Homo sapiens: one gene and its partners. The protein of the gene in region 1 binds, or shares a complex with, the protein of each later gene. Each region holds a gene or a part of one and is shown in the gene's direction. Other genes may lie near its edges.

Region 1 (6,153 bases):
GTCAAGAGGGCCAGGAGCAGGAGAGTCTGGCCTGGAGACAGGGCCGCTCCACTACCACCCAGTGGCTCCCACCCTCCTGGACTCCAGCCAGGAGTGCACAATCCTCGTCTTAAATAGGATTGAGCAAAGGATGGGACAACCGGCGTCTGTTGTATAAGCCTAGGGGACTGGGGACTGGGGGCCTCGACTGTCATGGCCACTGCACTAATTTGTGGAGTTAACTAACATTATGTATTCTAACTCTGGGAGGAAAGGACATTTCAGCCACCGGGCTCCCATGTGTTCCAGGAGGCTGCTGAATGATGTTTCTCTAGCGGCACTGCTTGGTACCACCCCGCCTGGCCCTCCTTCTCGGGGAGCAGCCAGCCTCTTCGTTTGAAGGCATCTGTCCTAGAGGTGCACTGCTTCTCCTTCTGAATGGTGTGATTGGAAGTGATCCCCAAGCACTCTGCCACTCTTCCGCTTATTTTGGCCCAGGCAAATCCAGCCAACATTCGAGCTGTGGGTCCCGTCAGAAAGAGGCTGGCTCACTGGCCAGCCTGCTCAGGGTCTGCCGTGTGCTTCCCACCGCAGCAGCTACCACAGGCGCTGAGAAATCGCTCCCTGGTCTGTGTCTGCAGACGCAGACCCAGGAGGGGCCCCGCCTACTTCCAGGCACAGGCTGCTCGTCCGCCTGGTTTTCCTGGAGGGAACTGCTGCGTAGATTTTTCACGAGCAAGTCCTTACAGGTGGTTTCTGTTTTGAGCCAGGTTTTCAGCTAGGAGCTTTTTTGGGAGTCTGTGCAGATGAACAAAATCAACACTGGTCAAAGTCTAGATATCTACGAGGAGGGGATAAATTATGATAAATACATCTGATGGATACTAGCTAGATCTTTTTATTAAGAAAGTACTTCTGTGCTAAATGAAAGAAAGCAGGACACAAACTGAATATACGTTATGATCCCAAGTATGTTACAAAACAGAAAGAAAAAGATGGGAAGAAAAAACACCAAAATATTAACATTGGTTTTCTTGAGAAAATGGGAATTCCGGTGATCTCTTTTGATCTCTCCTGTATTTCCTTATATTTTCTGCAGTGAATGTGTATTAACTTTTATTATTAGAAAATGATTTTTAAAATTTAAGTCCTAGTTCAAAAAATAAACGTGTCAGAGAAAGGGGGCAGATGGACTCCTCCGACTTACAGGGCAGCTCCATGGAACGCCATCCAGGTCCCCAGTGCTTCTGCTGGCAGCACTCCACTGATAAGCATGTTGAGAGTGAGGAAGTTTCTTCCCGCTTCTGTGCCCCCTTTCTCCCAATGGTTTCCTCATTGTCAGGCCACGTACATATCTGCTGAATTGAGTTGGAGGCACGTGCATTCTGTATTTTTCTAAGAGTAGGGCCAGGCTTTTCCTGAGCAGTCGGGCAGCGGCAGAGGGGTGCCCTGTAGGGAGCTTACCCAGGACCTGCCAAGCACACCTCCTTGGCCACAGTCACAGCGCACGTTCTGAGGCACCAGGCTGAAGGCGCAGTGCCTGTCCCAGCAGTGATAAGTATTTGTGGTTTGTTTTTGAATCAGACTGGGGAAGACTTTGAGCCCTGCTGAGACTCAGAGCATCTCCCTTTTATTTGCTTTGCTGTTCGTGCTAATTATGGAAGAGCTCTGTTTTTCCAGGAGGAATGGCTCCTGGTTGGCCCGTTCTCGGCCACCAAGGTAACAGGGAAAGTTGGGTGTTCAGTCATGACTGTGGACTGGACGGAGGTGGCACCGGTGGGAGACCAACAGAGGAAGCCCTCCTCCCGGCTCCCAATTCTGGCTTTCGCTAGAAGACAAGAGAAATGAGGAAAACAGCTACCCTAGGAAATAGCCTTCCTTGAAAATGGTTTCCTTTTTCTCAGGTTTGATGAATTTGGGGATTTGTTGTTGTCATTTTTTAAGTAAAAAAAAAATGCCCCAAACATTAGCGTTCATTATCCTAGTCTGATTTGGGTCCGGCTCTACCTGTAGGAGATGAATGTGGTAGGCCAGGGGGCCCCTGTGGATTCTAATTTATGTTTTCAGTTGTTTGCCATTTTGTATCTTCATTACGGGGCTACTTTCCTGCCTCCCTAAAGTCATCTTTCCCAGCATGCTGTTTCTGGACTTTATTTAGTACCGTGGTTACCTCCTGCAGGCTGTGTGGCCCCATCCTTCACCAAAATGTCACCTCAATTAATTCGGCGGCCATGAGACAGATCCATCAGTGGCCCGCCGACTCCCGTCAGCAGGCGCCCATGAGTGATGGGCACCTCCACGCCTCCCGCGGCCCCCCCCCGCCATGTGGAGTCAGCCGGGCAGGACTCACCATCCCTCTGGGCACGAGGGCATCTGGCTGGCCCGAGTCCTCTCACACCTTATGCTGAGGGAGACTTCAGCCTCAGGAGGAGACCCCAGGTGCATTCACTCCACCTAGCTGGCCTTGTTCCCCAGCCCTGCACTCAGGGATGCCTCAGGAGAGCCAACGCTCTGGCAGGGCAGCCAGGTGCCCTTTCCCTTTGGGCCAGGCCCAGGCAGTGGGGACTTAATTGAATCTGCTCATTCCCACCCCAGCTCCACACAGCACAGCACTGCAAATGGAGCTGGCAGAAGAGCTGACTTCTCATTTCTCTTTCCTCTCCCTTCTCTGGTCCATAGGTGTTTGAGGAACTGTGGAAGAGGGAAGGCAAGACTCCAGGGCAGATTGTTTCAGAAAAGCAGCTTGAACTGATGCAGGACCAGGGGGCACTGGAGCAGCTCTGCCACTCTGTGATGGAGGCCCATCCTCAAGTGGTGACTATCTCGGGCAGGGGAGAGGGCCAGAGCCAGCCCCAGGACATGCCCAAGAGCCTCGCCATCGCTCCCTGTGGCAGCCCAGAGGCTCTTCCTAAGAATGGCTGACCCAGTTTCATCAATAATTCCCTCACTGTCATCTTTTTAGTTAAGGTCAGAAGAGATGAAATAGGTGGATATTGGAAAAACACAACTTCTTTTCCTATAAGAAGGATGCCACCCCTGGAGTTTACTCTCCATGGAGGTGTAGTTTAAAAGGGTGTCAGCAAGCTCACGAAATCCAAGCTGTGACCTCCCAGGTGTGTCGCCCTCTCCCAGGGTTGGCATTTCGAATCTGTTGTGGTTAGCGCTACTTCCTAAGGACCTCCCAGTAAAGAACCAGCAGGTGTGCCGGCAGAGCAGGGAGAGTACAGGAACTTCAGCTTCATGCTTCTAAGAGGTGGGAAGAAAGGCAGAAGGGAAAAGTATTCATAAATTGTGGAGAAAATCCCTGACAGGAGCATGACTGAAAACCAGGTCATTTTGTGTTCTTAGCACAGCACAAGACATAAAAGCTAAAACGAGTGGCATCCCTCCCTCCCCAAGTCTAATCATATTGTCTAGAGATATTTTTTCAGTGGGGAAAAAAATTGTCGGCATCTTTTTCAGAATAATACCCACCCACCCATCAGCTTGCCGGGGACACTCACAGCTCTGTAAAGAGCTCTCGATAAGGAAAATGAGCCTGCACTGGGCCTCCACAGCCTCGTCTTCCTGCCTCATCTGTGGTGACTGATAAAGACGTGCCAGTAGTTTCAGGCTTGTTCTGTGGCACTTGAGTGCAGATCCTCATGTCATTGCCCTTGGAGACGCTGCAGAGCAGGAGGTCACGTGGTGGCCCTAAGAGTCAGTGGCTATCTGATAGGAATTCAGCACCTCCTGGCTTCCTCACTCCCCCTGCCCACACAGCACACTCCCCCCGACCCAGCGCTCTGGAAGACTCGGCCAGTGTGTAGATCTGCTTTCTGATAAAGGAATCTTCTTGGTGGGGAGCAGGGGGAGAAGGAAAGCCACACATTTCAGCTGAACATCACTGAGAATCAGAGAGGTGTCCTCACTGATTAGACGCAGTGATTCATCATCTCAGAGAGATTATCCCTCCCCAGACTCAGTGTCCTCGGTCATTGTGGCGTCGCAGAGGGGAGGGCCCTGGCTCCCACGTGCCAGCTTCTCTGGCTTTCGGCAATCACTTCTTGCTCATTTTAATCAGAAAGCAGAGTAGCAAAAATCTCCTTTGACAGGAGCCTAGAAACCTACTCAGAAGTGAGGCCCCTCCCCTTTTTCTGTTCTACATTTTATGTCTAATACTAGTGGAAATAAGCGGAATTTAATTTTCAGTAAACTTAAGCCTTAGTTTGGGATTTGGGGGCATGAATCCCTTCATTTTCTCCTCTTAAGTAAGTAATTTCTGTCCTTCTAGGTAATGGATGTGAAGAACAGAAACCCCAGAGCTATAAATAAACTGATTGGGTTGGTCCGGAAAGCGACTCAAAGCCGAGCAGATCCAGTCATGATAAAGGAGATCCTGGAGAAGAAGCTGTCATTGTGAGATGTTTGGGATCCCCTTGCCCAAGGGACAACAACAAACAGTGCAGCCTGACTGGGAACAGGATCCTGTGAAAGCTGATGCCCATGTGCCCTGAGAGCTGCCTCTCAATCCCTGTCCCAAGCCACAGCTATGGCATTAATGTCACCAGTGTTCTCACCCTCTAGGCCCTGTGCCTGGAGGTGCCTCCACAGCCGACCAGCAGCCACCCCGCCTGCTTCATCCACATCAGGAGGGTCCGGTGAGGCTGCAGCAGTGGTTAAGGAGTAACACCTTCTTGTATTAAGGAATTTTAAACTAAATAAAATGTATGTTGGAGATACTGTTACCCATTCTAAGAAAACTTTTCATTCTGCAGTTCCTTCAACAAATATTTTTGAGCAACTCCTAAGGGCCAGCCATTGTAGGTGATGGGCATTAGCAGTGGTCAAGAGAGACTGTAATTTGGATGTATTGTTTTCAGACCTAAACACAGGTTAACAAAGATGAAAATACAACCAAATAAACTGGCACAGTATAAACACATTTGTTTGTTTAAGGAGGTCTCAAGAGGGTGGGGAAGGAGGATATTATTAGAATTAATCAACCTATCGACTGAGTAGAAGTGATATTGCCTGTTAAACTCCCTCCCCATCCCAGAAGGCACAGTCTGAGAATAAATGAATTAAAAAAATAAGTTTTCCAATAAATTTAATCAATAAAATATATACTGAAATATCACATAAAAATTAACTTACACTTCAAAGATTGTGCAGCTGACAACTCCCCCAAATCCCCCAACCCTCAGGCCAAACAAGATAAAAAGAAACAAGAAAAAAGTTGTAACATGAAATTGACTTGTTTTGCTTGGAAATAAGATTATAAATTAGTAAATCAAAATCTTGACCTCTCATGATAATCGTGGTGTGCTGCAGGCATCACGATGAAGGCGGGGCTGTCTGCACTCCTGTGCTTGCGACACTAATACTGTTCTCTCCACTGCACCGGAGCACCTTTGTTCGGTATATATATGCCTTTGTTACCTCTGACTCACGTCGCTTAAAGACCAGTTTTGCAAATGTTGTTTTTTAAAAGCATACTTGTCAAAACTGTGATGTAAGAGAATAAAATCCTTGGAGGCCTTGATTTGAAGCTGTGAACCTGTAGCCTACCAAGGACAGTAAAAACATTCCCGTTGTGAACACTGCTCCAGAAGCAGCTGAGGAACTAGAAAAAAGTGGACACCCCTCCATCACCAATTCAGCGACTCATGCTTCCTGGCTTGCACAGTTCCTCAGGACTTCCCTGAGAGTGATGAGAAAGGTGCCCCTCTTCCCCAGCCCAAAAGGTAGGCAGAGAAAGGTAACCAGTTGCGTGGTTCATTTTGGACAGGCATGAGGAGGTGGCTTTTTAAAAAAAGTCGTTTAAAAAAATTAGTGACAGAATTTTAAGAGACTATGTGACCTTACCCGGGAAGCCAGGTGCCCCGCATCCTGTTGCGGTCCTGAAAACTACTGGGTCTAAAGTAACATGATTTTCACCAAATCTCTCTACAAGACAGTAAGGCTGAAGCAGTTCTCTCCTCACTCTGCAAGTCTGAATTACAAATGGGCAAAGGTGGTCTGAGACTGGAGTCTGACAGGATCTTTATTTTGTAAGAAAGGAGAAGGTTCAGTTTCATTTTATAAATTCTGTTTTCACCAAAAGTTCTGGCTTCTTGGTGACTAAACCTTACAGAAAGCATCGAAGATCTTTCCAGACCATTTAAAATTAAAGGCTTACTTAAAAGGGGGTGC
Region 2 (9,002 bases), on another chromosome or scaffold:
GTGATCTCGGCTCACTGCAACTTCCGCCTCCCGGGTTCAAGCGATTCTGCTGTCTCAGCCTCCTGAGTAGCTGGGATTACAGGCATGCGCCACCACGCCTGGCTAATTTTTAGTAGAGACGGGGTTTCTCCATGTTGATCAGGATGGTCTCGAACTCCTGATCTCAGGTGATCCACCTGCCTCGGCCTCCCAAAGTGCTGGAATTACAGGTGTGAGCCACTGTGCCCAGCCTTTTCCTTCTTCTTAAGAAAGGAGAAATAACAGCAAGTCTGTATACTAATGGAGATGATCCAGTAGAAAAGAAAAGACTGATGATGCAGGAGACACCTGCCGGAATGATATCCCAGAGTAGGTGAGGGGGATGGGATCAGAAACACAAGCCGAGGGCTGGCCTTATGTGAAAGCAGTGACAGCTAATCCATACAGCAGGAGGGAAGGTAGAAGATACCGAGAGAGATGCTGACAGGTGGGTAGCTTGCATGAGTTGTGTTACTAATAAAAAATCAAGACACATGGGATAAAGTGTTTGAAAGGTGGGAAAGTCCCAGAAAATCTAAGCTGATGGCCATTATACCAACATTACAACATTTGCCATCTGGGGAGTCAGGATTATACTCTGTCAGGGAAAAAAAAAACAACTTCACTTGTAATATTCACAAAAGTCATGTGCTTCACTTTTCCTGCCTTACATTCCTTTTCCACTGCTAAAGATAATTAAACAATTATTCACTGAAACTTCTATGTGGTTTGAACAACAGAAGTGGACATTTAGTCGTGTCAAACTTTAGCTGCTGTTTAAGAGCTGCAGAAAGGTTTCAGTCCTCTTTGAGATACAGAGCCTGCAGCCCAAGGTTGTTTTTAGTTTTCTTGGTCCCCTGATAATGCTAATACATCAACTGAGTAGCCTTGGCTCACTGTTACTATCTAACAAGCCCCTGAACCCAGAATGTAGTCAGCTGGCAGTTAGTAATTGAGAACCTGTTTGGTGACACGGATGACTGAATGGGGCCCTTAAGTGTTCCATCCTATTGACAGGGGTTGACACCTTGACTTGTTCAGAGAGTTGGGCCAATTTGAAAAATCCTAAATCTGTCATCAGTTTAAAGACTTTAATCCCATCTAAAGACACCAAACTTTGTTGGTATGATGCTGTTGGCTGCATTTTTTCCCCATGTAAAAATTCTTCATTTCTTTAGCCATTTCTATGATTTATTATTTTACGTCCAACAGTAGTGGCCGTCTCCAGAAAAACAGCCAGCCTTCATCTTTCAAATAAAATAGACATGTCTCTTGCTTTCTTGCCAAGGGAAATAACTGCTTCCTACAGTTTACAGTCTTCTACTCATTATTTTATTTCCCCAAGCTACTGTTTCAGATATCTTCTGCAATGACAATAAATATCCTCAAAAGGTAGGAGAAAAAAAAAAAGAGGATAACTTGCGAATAATATTACCCATTCAAGTCATAAAAAACTAAGATGTTTCAAGAATACTATATAAAAGTAAAATGTTTTACAGTGTTATATTATTAAACAGCAGCCAAGAAAAGTCTAGATACAGCCATTCTGTTTAAATGAAAATGTACACGGCATGAATTACGCATGTGCATTTAAAGAAATAAAAAGCTAACAGACCTAAACGAAGACAAAATGTAAAAATTACTCATAGATAAAATACTGCTAATTTAAGTTTGTTATCTTAAGTCAGAACAAAAATATAAAAAGGCATAGAAATAGTGACTGAATGACAACTGCGTATGTGAAGCACTGAAACAGGTTGACAAAGCATGGGATCAATCTTGAAAGAACTTACAATCAAAGGAGATGAAAAAACATGCTGATCATTGAGTAAAACTTACCACTAAAAGACATATCTTATAAAAAACTGAATTCTCTTCAAGCCTAATATAAAAAGAATAAAGGAAAACGGCATGCCCAACTGGTAGTAGCAATTACTACTTCAAAACAAAGAATACAAACGTAGACTTCATGAGACAATCACAGTAAAGTCATTTCAATGCTTTTTTTTTTTTTTTTTTTTTTTTTTTTGAGATGGAGTCTCACTCTATCGGCAGGCTGGAGTGCAAGGGCGCGTTCTTGGCTCACTGCAACCTCCGCCTTCCGGATTCAAGCGATTCTCCTGCCTCAGCCTCCCACCAACACAGTGAAACTCCCGTTTCTATAAAAATACAAAAATTAGCTGGGTGTGGCGGCGCATGTCTGTAGTCCCAGCTACTTGGGAGGCTGAAGCAGGAGAATCGCTTGAACCCGGAAGGCGGAGGTTGCAGTGAGCCAGGAAAGCGCCCTTGCACTCCAGCCTGCCGATAGAGTGAGACTCTGTCTCAAAAACAAACAAAAAACCCCATAAATTCTAAACTGACTAGGAAACAACTATACTTCCGAAGCCTGTGACGGATCTCAGAATACCACAAAGTTCCCTGGACAGAAATTTAGCTACAAACATAGGCAGGGCGCAATGGCTCGTCTGTAATCCCAGCACTTAGGGGGCGGAGGCAGAGGATCGCCTGAGGTCAGGAGTTCGAGACCAGCCTGACCAACATAGTGAAACCCCATCTCTACTAAAAATACAAAAAATTAGCCCGGTGTGGTGGCATGCGCCTGTAATCCCAGCTACTCGGGAGGCTGAGGCAGGAGAAATTGCTTGAACCCAGGATGCGGAGGTTGCAGTGAGCTGAGATCAGGCCACCGCACTCTAGCCTGGGTGACAGAGTGAGACTCAGTCTCAAAAAAAAAAAAGTTAGCTACAGACACAGTTCTCAAGTCTGAACTTACATATTTAAGGACGCATGAAAACAATCAAGCTTATATTTTGTCAATACAAATGGCCAGAAGGATTCCCTGGCCATTGCAATTTCAAAAATTTTGGAAATATTTGCAGAGGTATTGTTAAAAACCTAAATGATTCATTTATGTAAACCAAAGAAGCGTAGTCAATTTTTTAAAACGGCATACCTTATGAAAGTGATTTTTTTAAAAAAGGTAACAATGTCTTTTGAAAACTTACTTCTCATATTAACGTCTATAGGATTTACACTGGCAGCGTGAACTTTGACAATGACTTCATTTGGATAGTGTATGATAGGCATCATCATGTTCTGAGTGAATCGAAGCACTTCATTCTTCCCATATTTATCTATCACCCAAGCAGGCATGACAGTGCTCCTAGGAGAGGTAGTACTAATCCTTCTAACTGAAGGCTTTTGGACAACTTTGCTTCTCCAGAAGCAAACCGCAGTGCATGCATTTCTTCTAAGTACACAAGTCTTCAGAAATTCCATTGTAAACACTGGTTGAACTGCGTGCTCAAATTCAAATACACTTGGACTGGATCAAACTCTCACCCCTGAATTCAGTCAAATTCTGCCAAACCACGGGCTAGTTTCAAAATTAAGCATGCAAAACGGAGCATTCGAAAATGAAGCTAATCTAATGGAGAAACTGAAAGAAGAATACGGAACTGTTATTCCGCTCTTCGCATATGAAATGCTCGAATTAACGTTCCAGTCAGTATTCTGTCCATTCTCCTCCCTCACTTTCACCCCCTCCACTTTAAAAAAAAAAGGGGGGGCGGGGCATTAAAAAGCAGGTGCGCAAACCCCCTAGATCCCTGCCCTGTCCTGGGAGCCCTCGGCGGGACAAGCAGACACCGCTCGCGATCCAACGCCAGAGAATCGAACGCTTGCCGACTGCCGCCGCGACCCTGGCCCGGAATCTCCTTGCCTGCCCGCTCTCCTTAGCCGCCGGGATGGCTTTGCGGCGCCAACCAATCGCCTACAAAGATCATTTCCTCGGGCTGCAATTCAACCAATCCAAGTACTCGGTGTTGAAGGGCTCAGTGACAATTAAAGATGGCTGCGCCCATGTAACATCACTAGCGACCGGTGACCTCTTTTTCCCCCTTGCCTGGCTCCTGTGGTGGCAGGCTGGGCACGAGGACCATGCTGGGCCGGAGCCTCCGAGAAGTGAGTGGAATTGGCCCGCTGAGGCCCCCGGGAGGGCGGAAAGTTTAACGGACTTCGTTGACAAAGAGTCCCTGGGCCTTACCACGCATCTTGGCCCACCTCGCTGCTTCCTCTAGAACTGAGTGGGGGATAAGTACCTTTCGATTCTTCGGGTGTACTCGCCGTACCCATTCAGGAGTTAGGACCTTAGCAGGGAAATCTCTGCACCGCGGATCTGTAGGGTGGTGAAGCGGCTTCTCACCATTAGACATTTGCTCTGGTGTAGGTCGGGATCCGGATGGTCTCGGAGTGGGCTTTGCCAAAGGGGGCTTGCGGGGCCACTTCAGTCTCTCTTCTGTCCCCGACACTTAGCTGCAGTTGTCGCTAAGAAGCCCGGCGAAACTGTAGTTTGCAAAATTCAAATGAGTAATTTTTGGCTTTTTTCAAAGAATTCGTTCTCTAGGATTTACCTACCACTAAGATACCAGTGATTTCCTAACCCGTGTCTCCATGTCCTGGACGTCGTGTTTGAATTCTAGACTGTATTTGTGAATGCTTTCTGGGCAGTTCTTCTAAATGTCACATAAGCACCCTCAAATTCACTTTAATCGGTGTTGAAGTAATCATTGTAACAGGACTTACCTCTCAACCCCCGTCTTAAAAAAGCTCTGGTATTTCTGAATTCTTAATAGACTCTTTTTAATGGCACAACTATTATCTCATTTGCCTTTAGATTCTTCCTCATCTTTCATATCCAATAAATCACTAAGCCCTCTTCATTCTATCTTGCAGATATGGCTGGAATCTGCCCTCTTACGTTATTTCTGCTGTTATAGCTTTAATTCGGGTCTTTTTGCTTCCTGGTTCACGTCACTCAACCTTAGAACTGTCTGCAGGCCCATTGCTATCAGAGTCACATAAAGCACCTGTTGAAACTAAAACTATGCCCCACTCTAGACTTAATTAGAGCTGTGTGGTAAGTTCGGGAGTATGGTTTAATGGAGGCTCCAGGTGATTTCTGGTAAGAAGTAGGCGCTGATGACCTAAACTGCCTTCCATCTTCCTTTTTATTCCACCCTAGAAGTTGTCGTTTTGTTTGTTTCCCAGCTGGCAGCGTGGAATTATAATTATAGATAGCTGTAATATATAATGAGAAATTGAAATCCACAGGCTTTAAATAATAGTTCTTCCCCCAAAATACATTATTATGTTATCATTTTAAATTGCGTCGAATCAAATTTGTTCTTTAAAAAATAAATATGCCCGGCGCGGTGGCTCACGCCTGTAATCCCAGCACTTTGGGAGGCCGAGGCGGGTGGATCACGAGGTCAGGAGATCGAGACCATCCTGGCTAACACGGTGAAACCCCATTTCTACTAAATATACAAAAAATTAGCCGGGCGTAGTGGCGGGCGCCTGTAGTCCCAGCTACTCGGGAGGCTGAGGCAGGAGAATGGCGTGAACCCGGGAGGCGGAGCTTGCAGTGAGCCAAGATCACGCCACTGCACTCCAGCCTGGGCGGCAGAGCAAGACTCCGTCTCAAAAAATAAATAAATAAAATAAAAATAAATAAACAGACAACACCCAAAACTTGTTTTAAAATTAAATACAACCTATAAAAATATGTTATTTCCTTTTTCTGCCTTTTCCACTGTCAATCTAAGTAACAGAAAGAGACTCTAAAGAAAATATTTATTTTGGAGTAGCAATGCAATGGGAATATGTGTAATATTGTAAACTATGTGCCTATTCAAGAAGGTTGAGGCAAGGGATGTTTTTAAAGACAGAATGAGAAGGATTACTTAAATTATTTTGAATCAGTTATCCTTGGCCACAAGGATCAGTCACAAAGGTGGCATCAGTCCAAGGTTGGATGGCCAGTTGCTGGACAGACATTCTTACAGAAGTACTCGTGTGTGTGGAAGGTTGCAATGGCCTTTGTGCAAGGTTGTGTTTTTTGCAGTCTTATGATTGTTTTTAAAAAAAAATTTTAATGGGTACATAGTAGGTGTATGTATTTATGGGGCACATGAGATATTTTGATACAGGCATACAATGCATAATAATCACATCAGAGTAAATGGTGTATCCATCACCTCAAGCATTTATCATTTCTTTGTGTTACAAACGTTCCAGTTATACTCTTTTAGTTATTTTTAAACGTACAATAAACTATTGTTGACTGTAATCACCTGCTGTGCTATCAAATACTGTATCTTATTCATTCTGTCTAACTATATTTTGTACCCATTACCCATCCCCACTTCCCACCCCTACTACTACCCTTTCAGGCCTCTAGTAACCATCATTCTACTCTACCTCCACGAGGTCAATTGTTTTCATTTTTAGCTCCCACAAATAGGTGAGAACATGGGAAGTTTGTCTTTCTGTGCCTGGCTTATTTCACTTAACATAATGCCCTCCAGTTCCATCCATGTTGTTGCAATTGACAAGCTCTCGTTCTTTTTATGGCTGAATAGTACTCCATTGTGTACATGTAGGACATTTTCTCTATCCATTCATCTGTTGGTAGATACTTAGCTTGCTTTCAAATCTTGGCTATTGTGAATAGTGCTGCAATAAACATGAGAGAGCAGATATGTCTTTGCTATGTTGATTTTCTTTCTTTTAGGTGCATATATACGTAGCAGTGGGATTGCTGGATCGTATGGTAGTTCTATTTTTATTTATTTATTTTTAATTATTTTTTTTTTAGAGATGGGGTCTCACTATGTTGGCCAGGTTGGTCTTGAATTCTTGGCTTCAAGCAATCCTCCTCCCTCAGCCTCCCAAAGTGCTAGGATTACAGGTGTGAGCCACTGTGCCCAACCAGTAGTTCTATTTTTAGGTTTTTAAGGCACCTCCATACTATTCTCCATAGTGGCTGTAGTAATTTACATTTCATCCAACTTTTCTCCATCCTCACCAGCATTCATTATTGCCTGTCTTTTGGATAGAAGCTATTTTAACTGGAGTGAGATGATATCTCATTGTAGTTTTGATTTGCAATTCTCTGATGATCAGTGATGTTGAGCACATTTTCATATACCAGTTTGCCATTTATATGTCTTTCTTTTGAGAAATGTCTATTCCAATCTTTTGCCCATTTTTAATTTGATTATTGGATTTTTTCCTGTTGAGTTGTTTGAACTCCTTATATACTTCGGTTATCAATCCCTTGTCAGCTGGAGTGTGATAGTTCTTCTTATCAGGCATTCATGCGTGAGAACCCTCTCTTCTTGACCTTCCTTGGCTCCATTTGTCAGGATTTTAACACAAGTCACTCTATTTTGATTTTGACAACTGTCATAGCTCCTTAAGTGCTACCTTTTTTAGTGCTACTTCTCTCTGGTGTCATTGAGTTAGCCATTGTGAAAAACAACTTTTGCCGCATGGGGGGAGAAAAGAACTATTTAGGAGAGCTGACCCAGGGGAAAATCCAGAGGTTGCCTTGGCATGATTGCTTTTACTTTATCACTCCTTTAACAAATACTGATTAATGCCTAGCATGCAAAATATTTGGTGGTTATTTCCCCAGCTCTAAAACTACCTTCTGTCTACTTTGTATTTTTTCCACATCACTGTACTGTTGCCCTAAATTCTACCAATTAGAGATTAATTAATTCATACAAATTATCTTTTAATTTAATTCTCTTTTAAATATGTACAGATGCCTGGGAAGGTTGAACAATTTTTCCACCCATTGTTGTAAATTATAACAGTTCAAATTTCTTCATAATACCTTAATTGAGATAATCAGTTGAAGAGGGGGAAATTTGCGGGGAATTAGGGAGAAGGGCTGGAAATGATGGCAGCAATTTGGGGGATGTGAGTGGAAGCTTATGGTAACAGGAGTCCTGGGAATAGGCACAAAAAGGAGGTAAAATGCCAAATAGGTAAAATTCCCATTTGTAAATTTTACCCAAGTACATTCAGAAAGGGGGAGGAAATCTCACTTTTACCTTTGTCTTTTGTGGCATGATCCCAGTGTTTCTAGGAGTGAGGCACCAGGCTAATATTATTAATCCTAAAGTTTAAAGAATGATATATTCATTTGGCTTCTTGGAGCTTCAACTTTAGAAAAACTAATCATTGTTCTATAGGGAAATCGATTCTAAATTTTAAACAACTGTTATTCATTCAACTAACATTTAGTGAGTACCTCTGTGTTCCAAGTACTGGGGGGTAGCATTAAAGACGGACAGAAGCTCCTGCTTCCTGAAACCTAACTTTTTTGTGTGGAAACGCAGCCATTAAACACTTTAAAAAAAAAAAAAAGTAAATGATATAATTTCAGGTAGTATGAGTACTATGGAGAAAAATTAAGTAGATCATAGTATGAGAACTAGTTGGGGGAGCTGGACATTTTAGCTAGAGTGGTCAGGGAAGATTTCTCTGATTGAGTGAATAATACTTAATAGAGACCAGAAGGGCATGAAGGGGGAACACTGGGCAGATCTGAGAGAATAGTGTTCCAGGCAGATGGAACAGTAAGTACAAAGACCCTAAAACAAGAGCAAGCTTAACATGTTCAAGGAATAGCAAAAGGGCCAATATGCCTGGAGAGAAGTGAATGAGGAGAGCAATGAGAGAAGAGGTTAGGGAGACAGGTAGGAGCCAAATTGTGGAGAACCTTTGAGGCCACAGTAGGGAGTATGGATTTTATTCCAAGTGTAATGGGAATCTTCTGGAAAGTTTTGAATCTGTGGACATGATCTGAGTTAAAATTTTAAAAGCTCCTTCAGATGACTCTTAAGGGACCATGATCTTTAGAAAAGCAAGTAATAAAGCACAAAGACTGACCGGGTGCAATGGCTCACGCCTTTAAACCCAACACTTTCGGAAGCTGAGGCAGGCTGATTGTCTGAGCTCAGGAGTTCAAGACCAGCCTAGGCAATGTGGCGAACCCTGTCTTTACAAAAAATACAAAAATTAGCTGGGCATGGTGGTGCATGCCTTTAGTCCCAGCTGCTCAGGAGGCTGAGGTGGGAGGATCACTTGAGCCTCGGAGGTTGAGGCTGCAGTGAGGCGAGATCACATCC
Region 3 (9,149 bases), on another chromosome or scaffold:
CATACCATGAGTAAATATTTGTTGTGTCTAGCTTTGGGCTGGGTGCCACAAAAAAAGAACTAGTCCTTTCCTAAAATAATCTTATTGTGACAACTTAGTTCTCTTTTTTTTTGAGGCAGAGTATCGCTCTGTCGCCCAGGCTGGAGTGCAGTGGCGCGATCTCGGCTCACTGCAAGCTCCGCCTCCCGGGTTCACGCCATTCTCCTGCCTCAGCCTCCCAAGTAGCTGGGTCTACAGGCGCCCACCACCACGCCCGGCTAATTTTTTTGTATTTTTAGTAGAGATGGGGTTTCACCGTGTTAGCCAGGATGGTCTCGATCTCCTGACCTCGTGATCCGCCCACCTCGGCCTCCCAAAGTGCTGGGATTACAGGCGTGAGCCACCGCGCCCGGCTGACAACTTAGTTCTTATGTGCAGCCTTAGCCCAGATGTACCTGTCACATCTTTGTCCCTCTCTGACATGACTCAAACGCCATTAGGGTCTGCCCTCAGTCTGTGCCCACTCAAAGCAGGAGGAGCGTGGCTACTACCGAATACCATATCAGTGATTTAACAGACTGCTTATTTTTTTAATCTAAGTATCTGGAAGCAGGCTTACACACTTTTACACCTTGAAACAATAGTGAAGCCTCATGCAAATGTTCAAGCTCTTGTGTGTTTTTTACCGGTTTGCCATCTGAAGGCTTTAGTAAAGTCACTAGGTCCCACAGAACACTGGGAGATTCTTGAGCTGTTGGTGGCACATCTTGCTCAAGGGCAGGCACATCCACCAAAGTGGCTGTGGTGGAAAAAGCATTCATTTTAGGTGTATCAGATTGGGCTGAGATCCCAGTTGTTACTTAGCAGCCAACATCCTTAAGTTACTCTTGTGGCAAGTTTGCTTCCCCATCTCTGCTTAGCTTTCCAGCTTCATCTTCCACCCCGGCAGACCACACCCCAGCCTGCTAAACTCCCTGTCCTTCTCTGAATCTCTGAGCTCTCGGCTCTATTGCTTTGGGATTCATGCTGCTATACGTGCCAGGAAGTCCATTTCTCATACCTTCATCCCCCAATCCAGCTATTTCTTGCCCATCCTTGAACAGTGACATCAGCTATTCTGAGGATGTGCTACTCACGCAGGCTGGACTAGGTACCCTTTCTATCCTTTGGCAGGCTGTACTAACCTCTGTTAGATTTAAAATATTGTTTTTGTAATTGCTTTTACCTGTCCCCACCAAAAGACAGTTGCCCATATAATCATCAAAAACTATTTGTTAAATCAATCCAGAGAAGTAATTAGCACTTACTTCTCAGGGTTGTTCGGTCAATCTATAAACTGTAGGCTGTTATTTGGTCTACTGTTGATCCCAGCTTCTCTATCTTTGAACAGTGCCCATTAACTCAAGAATATACTGCTTCCTTGTTCTCTCCTTCTTGCCCCTCTCCATCATCCCCTAAAAGCCCCCTTCTCTGAGAGGGTAACCTTGAGCTTCTGGGTTTTGTAGATGTCTATACCTGAGATCCGACAATGTGGTAGAAGGCAACTGTGCTGATGAATTACTACAAAACTCCCATCGCGTCGTGGAGGAGTACTTTGTGGCCCCCCCAGGTACGTGCTGCCCAGAATGGTTTAACAGATAGTCTCACAGTAACCTTAGGAATGAAGCAGGAAGCATGAGGACCAAAGATGCTATGTGAAGGCACTTTGAAAAGGATGAAGTGCATACAGATGGTGGCATTAAGGTGGCAGTAGGGTCCAGGGTCATACTCACCTCTAGGGGGCAGTTAGTAACAGGAACAAGCAAAACAGGATTGGGGGCATGCGGGAGGTTTAAAGTAGGTGGAAATCTGGAGCTCAAGATCTCCCTAAAGGGGCAGCTGGCATTCAGTGTTTCTCAAAGCCACAGTTAAGACCCTGCCAGATCCTGTAATCGACTCCAACTTTCTAGTATTCATACCATGAATAAATATTTGTTAGGTCTAGCTTTGGGCTGGGTACCACAAAAAAACCAGTCCTTTCCTAAAAGAATCCTTTTTTTTTTTTTTTTTTTTTGAGACGGAGTTTCGCTCTTGTTGCCCAGGCTGGAGTGCAATGGTGCAATCTCGGCTCACCGCAACCTCCACCTCCCGGGTTCAAGCGATTCTCCTGCTCAGGCTCCCCAGTAGCTGGGATTACAGGCATGCACCAGCACGCCTGGCTAATTTTTTGTATTTTTAGTAGAGACAGGGTTTCACTGTGTTAGCCAGGATGGTCTCGATCTCCCGACCTCAGGTGATCCACCCACCTCGGCCTCCCAAAACGAATCTTATTGTGACAACTTAGTTATCATGTGTGGCCTTAGCCCAGATGTTTCTGTCACATCTTTGCCTATGACATGATTCAAACGCCATTAGGGTCTGCCCTCAGTCTGTGCCCATTCAAAGCAGGAGGAGCATGGCTGCTACCCTATCAGTGTTGCCAGGCAGGAATGTAAACCCATTTCTCCAGAGAACCTGGATACCTGACATTTTGTGTGATATTTCTTAAATTTTTTTTTTTTTTTTTGAGATGGAGTCTCGCTCGGTCACCCAGGCTGGAGTGCAATCTTGACTCACTGCAACCTCTGCCTCCCGGGTTCAAGCAATTCTCTGCCTCAGCCTGCCGAGTAGCTGGGATTACAGGTGCCTGCCACCATGCCTGGCTAATATTTTTGTATTTTTAGTAGAGGCAGGATTTCACCATCTTGGCCAGGCTAGTCTTGAACTGGTGATCTACCCGCCTCAGCCTCCCAAAGTGCTGGGATTACAGGGGTGAGCCACTGCACCCCGCCGATATTTCTTAAATTTTAAGTGCTAGCAACCAATTCAAAATTTAAAAAACAAAATACCATCCAAGCCAAATAAAACACATCTGCAAGCCAGGTGCAGTCTGTGAGCCATCAGTTTACAACAGCTGGTATAGAGATTTGCATCATCTACCTACTGTAAATATTTTAAATAGAAGCTTTAAAATTACTCTGGGCTGACAGTAAAATCCAGAACCTTGGATAGGTTGACTGTTTTTATCTCCTCTGCAGGTAGGTGAATACTTGGAGCTGTTGTACTACCCCTCTGGGCATCTGGGAGTGGGACTAGCCAAAAGCAATCAGGTAGCCTGCTAAGTGCCAACTTCCAGTTCAGGATATCCTGAGGGAGAATCATTCTGAGCAGACTCCACAGAAGACATTGGCCCTGGTCAGCTTAAGGTGCCAGTTAAAGGCAGGCTCTGGTTGATGCAAGGATGGGAAAGAAAGCTAGAAATTTTGTGAGCTAAACTTTTTGTTTGTTTTGAGACGGAGTCTTGCTCTGTTGCCCAAGCTGGAGTGCAGTGGCGCGATCTCGGCTCACTGCAAGCTCCACCTTCCACGTTCATGCCATTCTCCTGCCTTAGCCTCCCAAGTAGCTAGGACTACAGGCGCCCACCACAACGCCTGGCTAATTTTTTGTATTTTTAGTAGAGACGGGGTTTCACCGTGTTAGCCAGGATGGTCTCTCTCTCCTGACCTCGTGATCGTCCGCTTCGGCCTCCCAGAGTGCTGGGATTACAGGTGTGAGCCACCGCACCCGGCCGTGAGCTAAACTCTTAATCATGCCTCCAATCCACTAAACCACCTGTTAACTGTGGAGAGAAAGGAGACTCTCCATCTCAGAGCCTGATAGTTGTGGCTCCAGCAGAAATATCTTTTGATCAGACATGCTATCTCCCACACAGAACCTTACTTCAGACTTTGCTTTTTGGGACCACCTGAGTTCATGGTCAGTGTTTCCTTCTAGTCCTATCTGCATATTAGTGGCTAATCAACCTGTATACTCCTTACTGAAAAAGGTGAATTTGGCTACACTTAGAACTGATTCTTTCAGATACTCCCAGTTAGGAAAACAGGACAGTAGCTACATTACTTCCATATTTTCCATGAGAAAGTAGTGATCAGTTAGCTCAGTAGAGCCAGCTGGGCGGCAGGCTCAGCTATAACATTCTCTGTTGTGGCCGGGCGCGGTGGCTCATGCCTGTAATCCTAGCACTTTGGGAGGCCGAGGAGGGCGGATCACGAGGTCAGGAGATCGAGACCATCCTGGCTAACACGGTGAAACCCCGTCTCTATTAAAAATACAAAAAATTAGCCGGGAGAGGTGGCGGGCGCCTGTAGTCCCAGCTACTCTGGAGGCCGAGGCAGGAGAATGGCGTGAACCCCAGGGGGCGGAGCCTGCAGTGAGCTGAGATTGCGCCACTGCACTCCAGCCTGGGCAACAGCGAGACTCTGTCTCAAAACAAAAACAAACAAACAAACAAAAATTCTCTTTTGTTATTTTCAAACAGGTAATATCTCTTTGCCAAAGCTGGATGAACAAGAGCCATTCCCACACAGCTGAGTAGCTCATTCTGGAAAGGGGGTACTCTGTGAACATGTGGAAGCATAATGACAGTATTTTTTTACTGTGAATACTAATGTTCCTGCTTTTTTCAGTCCCCTGAAAAAATGGATGCTCAAGCATTTCTTAATAACAGATTCTTCTGAAGACAGAATTGGGAAAGATCTGGCCCCAACAAGGCAGTGAGTTCCTGATGCTAACTGAGGTGAAAGAAAAGCAAAAGTCAGCTTCCAAGGAATTCACTTAACAGGCCTGTTCAGTATGGAAGACATTATTTATCTGCCTTTAACTCCCCCCAAAGGACCATACCAACTGCATGAAAGTGAACTTTTCTATCTACGTAACTGGTAGACGGAGCATCTTGATCACTATGTGACAACCTTGGCTGTCATTTTTAGTTGCCATTTGCATTGATTTGAGCAGCCCTATCTTTACCGAACATACCTGAATTTGTTCCTGGGCTCCCACTTTCTTCCCAGAAGAGGGCTAACTTCCTACTAAGGTCTGAAGAGTGTTGAAAGTAGACTAGAGCTTGGGAACTCCTAACCTAGAACTATCTGCCATCCCACAAAGTGATTATATGCCAAAGGGATACTAGTCATACCTAGTGTTTCTCTTTCTGAAAAGAGAACTTATCCTAAAATTAGCCCTGGGCCTGGGACAAAGGAGCCCTCTCCGCCCCCAAAATGATTATTAAATTGAGATGAGTCCAGGATAAAACTCAGATACCAAGGATAAATGAAACTTATTTAGGGATAAAAGTGGGCTGGGCGCAGTGGCTCACTCCTGTAATCCCAGCACTTTGGGAGGCTGAGACGGGCGGATCACAAGGTCAGGAGATCAAGACCATCCTGGCTAATGCGGTGAAACCTCATCTCTACTAAAAATACAAAAAATTAGCTGGGTGTGATGACAGGTGCCTGTAGTCCCAGCTACTCGGGAGGCTGAGGCAGGAGAATGGCGTGAACCCGGGAGACGGAGCTTGCAGTAAGCCGAGATCGCACCACTGCACTCCAGCCTGGGCGACAGAGCAAGTCTCAAAAAAAAAAAAAAAGTGATAGAATCAGAGAGTTTTTCCTCTAACCAAACTGCCAAAGTTGGTTTTGGCTAAGAATTTCCCAATAATATTTATGCTGCTGCTCATTTTTTTAGTTTTCTGAGACAGGGGTCTCCCTCTGTCACCCAGGCTGGAGTGCAGTGGTGACAGATCACTGCAGCCTCCAACTCCTGGGCTCAAGTGATCCTCCCACCTCAGCCTCCTAAGTAACTGGGACTACATATGTGCATCACCACGTCCAGTTAATTTTTTTTTAAGTAGAGGTGGGGGTTTTGCTATGTTGCCTATCTGGTCGTGAACTCCTGGCCTCAAGGGATCCTCTGGCATGCCTTGGCCTCCCAAAGGGCTAGGATCACAGGCAAAAGCCACCGTGTGTTTATTTTTCCCATTCCCTTCCTTTATCTGCAATGCTTTTTTCTTTAAGGCAGCCTAATTTACAAGCTTGGCCTTGAATTAAAAGAGAACCCAGAACCCGCTCTTGGAGTTTACGTTCTCAAACCAACATCAGAGCAACTGTCTATCCCCATATAAATAAAGTTATCTACCCCTGCTCCTAACTGGGTACAAGTTATGACTACAACTCAGTGATTTTTTAAATTAGTGTGCCTATTTGGTGAAATCTGTGAACTTAATCAAGGACAACCACACATGTCAATTACTAAACATTTAAAATATATTTCTAAACAGAATGGGCCGACTCAGTCACAGTAACTGTTGATCTCCATAGTAGAGCAACCCACAAAGACAGAACTGATTTTTTTCCCATAATCAGGGGTGAAAAATATACAACTTGTTTCTGAACCAAAACCACAATTTCTGCAGTTTAAAATGTTTCACTGCTAATATGGCCCTGGTAGAAATTATGTAGTTTTTTTTCTTCTTTAAAAAAAAAAAATTAAAAAAATTTCCTAAGACACTAAATCCTCAATCTGGAATGTAGATTCTGAGCACAAAGCAGCTCAGTTAACCTAAAAAATAAAGAAAAAATTCCCATCACCTGTCTCAGTAGGGCCTGAAAGGAGAGAAGTAGTGTGGGGAACCCCTGCTTTGGTATGGAGAGTCACGGCCCCTTGACCCAGACCGAGACCGTGAGTAGCCATAGCTGGTGCTTCTCTCAGGATAAACTCGGATGTAGGAAGTTTCACCCTGAAATGCAAACAAAAACAAAAAGAGTAAAGGGGAAAAAAATCAGAGCCAGAAGAATAAGCAAACCAACATCTAACAATAATAGTTAAGTATTGAGCACTTACTGTGTACTCTGTGCCTGGCATGAGGCTATCTCATTAAACCTTCATAACATTATGAGGTAGGTACTCTTACTATCCCATTTCAAGAATGAAGAAAATTAAGACTTAAGTTATATCATTTGCCCAAGGTAACACAATAAATGCCAATTTGACATGTTGATACTCAATTAACTATGATAAACAATATATCTGAATTACTGCCATTGACCCCCCTCAAAGCTAAGAACTGGAAAGGATCTCAGGGGTCATATAGTTTAATCCCCTGCCACCTCATGTATGCATCTTTGGATGGGCATCTATGGAAGGAGCTAGCCTGTATTTAATACCTTCCAGATGTGAGGACCTGAGCTAGATGCTTTAGACGTTATCCTCTTGCTCTAGATTCCTGGCAAGTCTTGTGATGGTGCTATTATGTGACCATTTTGCCCATGAAGGAATCGAGGTCCCAAGAGTAGTTCAGGTAAGGAATTAATAAGCAGCAGAGGAGTCATGTCCAGGCTGGCTTGTCCCCAGGCCCTCTGCCTTCAGCCACCATTCTCAGAAGATCCAAAGATGCCAAGGGGAAAGAAGCCGGATGCTTTTTCACCTTAGGTGAAAGTCAGTAATTGGAGTTACCCTTTCTGAGGCCCTGCTTTGCAGTATAACTGAGGATCAGGTGCTGTTCTGTTTCTGCTTCAAATTCAAGTCCTAGAGGACAGTCTGAACAAAAGCATCATTAAACCAGGGAAGGACCAACCTCTAAGCCAAAAACTAGGCAATTATATGAATCCTCAGAAAAAGAAATGAGCCCAGAGACCTGTGTCCCCAAACATCCGTAAATCTCATAGTAAGGCAGGACAGGATAACCAGAAAAAAACAATGTCCAACTGGTCTGGTTTCTGGTCTCAATGGTACCAAAGGGATAGTCACCACCTCAATCAAACTGAGATCCAAAACAGCAGCTGCTTTCCTACAAGGAAAGACATCAAGAACTACTGAGTCTGAAGGGTGACATAATCAACCACAAGAAAATGTTACGGTTTAGCCTGGCACAGTGGTGCATGCCTGCAGTCCCAACTACTGGAGAGGCTGAGGTGGGAGGACTGCTTGGGCCCAGGAGTTCAAGGTCAGCCTCGGCAATATAATGAGACTGTCTCTAAAATCAAAAATTAGAGAAATATAAAAATTATAAAATTAAAAAAGAAAATGTCATGATAGCTCAGGTTTCAGAGAGGATGCTGCACTACTCTGGGAAAAAAGTGAAGTGACAGCTCAGCCCTGACAGCAGGACCTAGAAGGGCTGAGATGAAGAGGCTGACCTGTAGAGCTCAGCCTGGACCCACAGGAGGGGTAGTTGAGTTCACAGAGGGATACTGCCATTTAAGCTGGTTGTGAATGGGGTGGTATGAAGACCGACTGCACTAGTATTCTCTCCAGGTTACAAATACCATGACCAAACTGTGTAATGTGATACTAATATGCAGAATAAAGCATATTAAAAAACAAACGTACCATGAATGCATACTTCTTTCAGCTATGACCCTGAAGGACTTAGGCATAGCAAATTCCATGGCTTTGTCCACCTAAGATAGATCTCTTATGGTACTGTGAGGTTACCAAATGGCATGGCCTCTTGCTACCTCTGCTAGGTCAGGTTCAAGTGGAGTGATTTGAGTACAAGCTCCTCAACAGAAGGCAAGGACCCACCTCATGAGAGCGGAATTTGGTGTCATCCAGTTTACGCAGGGCATATTCCATGTCTTCTTTTCTGAGATACTCGACCATCCCCACTCCATCCTTCTGCACATCAGCATAACAGACATCCCCAGCTTCTCGCATGTGATCCTTCAGGTCCTGCCAGCTGCCTGACGGAGGAAGTCCTAGGCATGGAGAACATAAGAAAGCCCACATCCTTCAGCTATGTTAACTGCCCTGTTAAGAGCCAGCAATACCTATGGTCCTTTCTCCATGATCACTTAAATCCTGAGGGTCCCCAAATCATAAACCTTGATAAGGGACATGAAATCAGAAAAGAGCACTGAAGTATGTGTGGTAAATGAACCACCTTGAGAAGCTGGTTTTAAGTTCATCTTCCAGAGACCAGGCCTTTTCAACAGAGCAAGAAGTCCATCCCATTACAGGTTTAGTATCTTTGAGAATTCATAGCCTCTTTCTTTGTCCTTTAAAATCAATGCCAAACTCCTAATACTTTGAGTTCCAATTTTTTCCATTATGAAATTTAACAGTACCAATTATTTATTGCTTGACAGGGTTTCACAGGACATGGGAATTTTGAAACCAGACATGAAATAACCAAAGAGTAGCTGAAGGTAACAACACAACAACAAAAAATCTAAAGTTTGTTTTCTTGTAGGTATGAATGACAAACTATACAGAGTACCTCTTAAAAGATCACCAACATTCTTCAATACAGTGGGGGGGAAGGTAAGACTCAGATGCTAAAACTAGTCGGGAGTCATACAACCCTACCTGATGTC

The links.
Region 2: GATB (region 1) and QRSL1 share a complex: the UniProt entries of both Homo sapiens proteins name them as parts of the heterotrimeric GatCAB amidotransferase (AdT) complex.
Region 3: GATB (region 1) and GATC share a complex: the UniProt entries of both Homo sapiens proteins name them as parts of the heterotrimeric GatCAB amidotransferase (AdT) complex.

The regions. Positions count from the first base shown.
Region 1 is NC_000004.12:151,669,402-151,675,554, reverse strand, and holds the end of GATB (glutamyl-tRNA(Gln) amidotransferase subunit B, mitochondrial isoform 1 precursor), read left to right. Parts: exon of another isoform or gene 1-2,658; coding exon 2,659-2,793; exon of another isoform or gene 2,794-3,966; intron 3,967-4,252; coding exon 4,253-4,381; 3' UTR 4,382-5,051; downstream 5,052-6,153. UniProt on the Homo sapiens protein: Allows the formation of correctly charged Gln-tRNA(Gln) through the transamidation of misacylated Glu-tRNA(Gln) in the mitochondria. The reaction takes place in the presence of glutamine and ATP through an activated gamma-phospho-Glu-tRNA(Gln).
Region 2 is NC_000006.12:106,625,725-106,634,726, forward strand, and holds the start of QRSL1 (glutamyl-tRNA(Gln) amidotransferase subunit A, mitochondrial), read left to right. Parts: upstream 1-3,853; 5' UTR 3,854-3,957; coding exon 3,958-3,981; intron 3,982-4,118; coding exon of another isoform or gene 4,119-4,152; exon of another isoform or gene 4,153-4,362; intron 4,363-4,602; exon of another isoform or gene 4,603-4,767; intron 4,768-9,002. Other genes in the region: RTN4IP1 (NAD(P)H oxidoreductase RTN4IP1, mitochondrial isoform 1 precursor), read right to left, coding at 3,024-3,297. UniProt on the Homo sapiens protein: Allows the formation of correctly charged Gln-tRNA(Gln) through the transamidation of misacylated Glu-tRNA(Gln) in the mitochondria. The reaction takes place in the presence of glutamine and ATP through an activated gamma-phospho-Glu-tRNA(Gln).
Region 3 is NC_000012.12:120,455,592-120,464,740, forward strand, and holds the end of GATC (glutamyl-tRNA(Gln) amidotransferase subunit C, mitochondrial), read left to right. Parts: intron 1-1,484; coding exon 1,485-1,588; intron 1,589-4,315; coding exon 4,316-4,368; 3' UTR 4,369-6,427; coding exon of another isoform or gene 6,428-6,571; 3' UTR 6,572-8,158; downstream 8,159-9,149. Other genes in the region: SRSF9 (serine/arginine-rich splicing factor 9), read right to left, coding at 6,428-6,571, 8,359-8,531. UniProt on the Homo sapiens protein: Allows the formation of correctly charged Gln-tRNA(Gln) through the transamidation of misacylated Glu-tRNA(Gln) in the mitochondria. The reaction takes place in the presence of glutamine and ATP through an activated gamma-phospho-Glu-tRNA(Gln).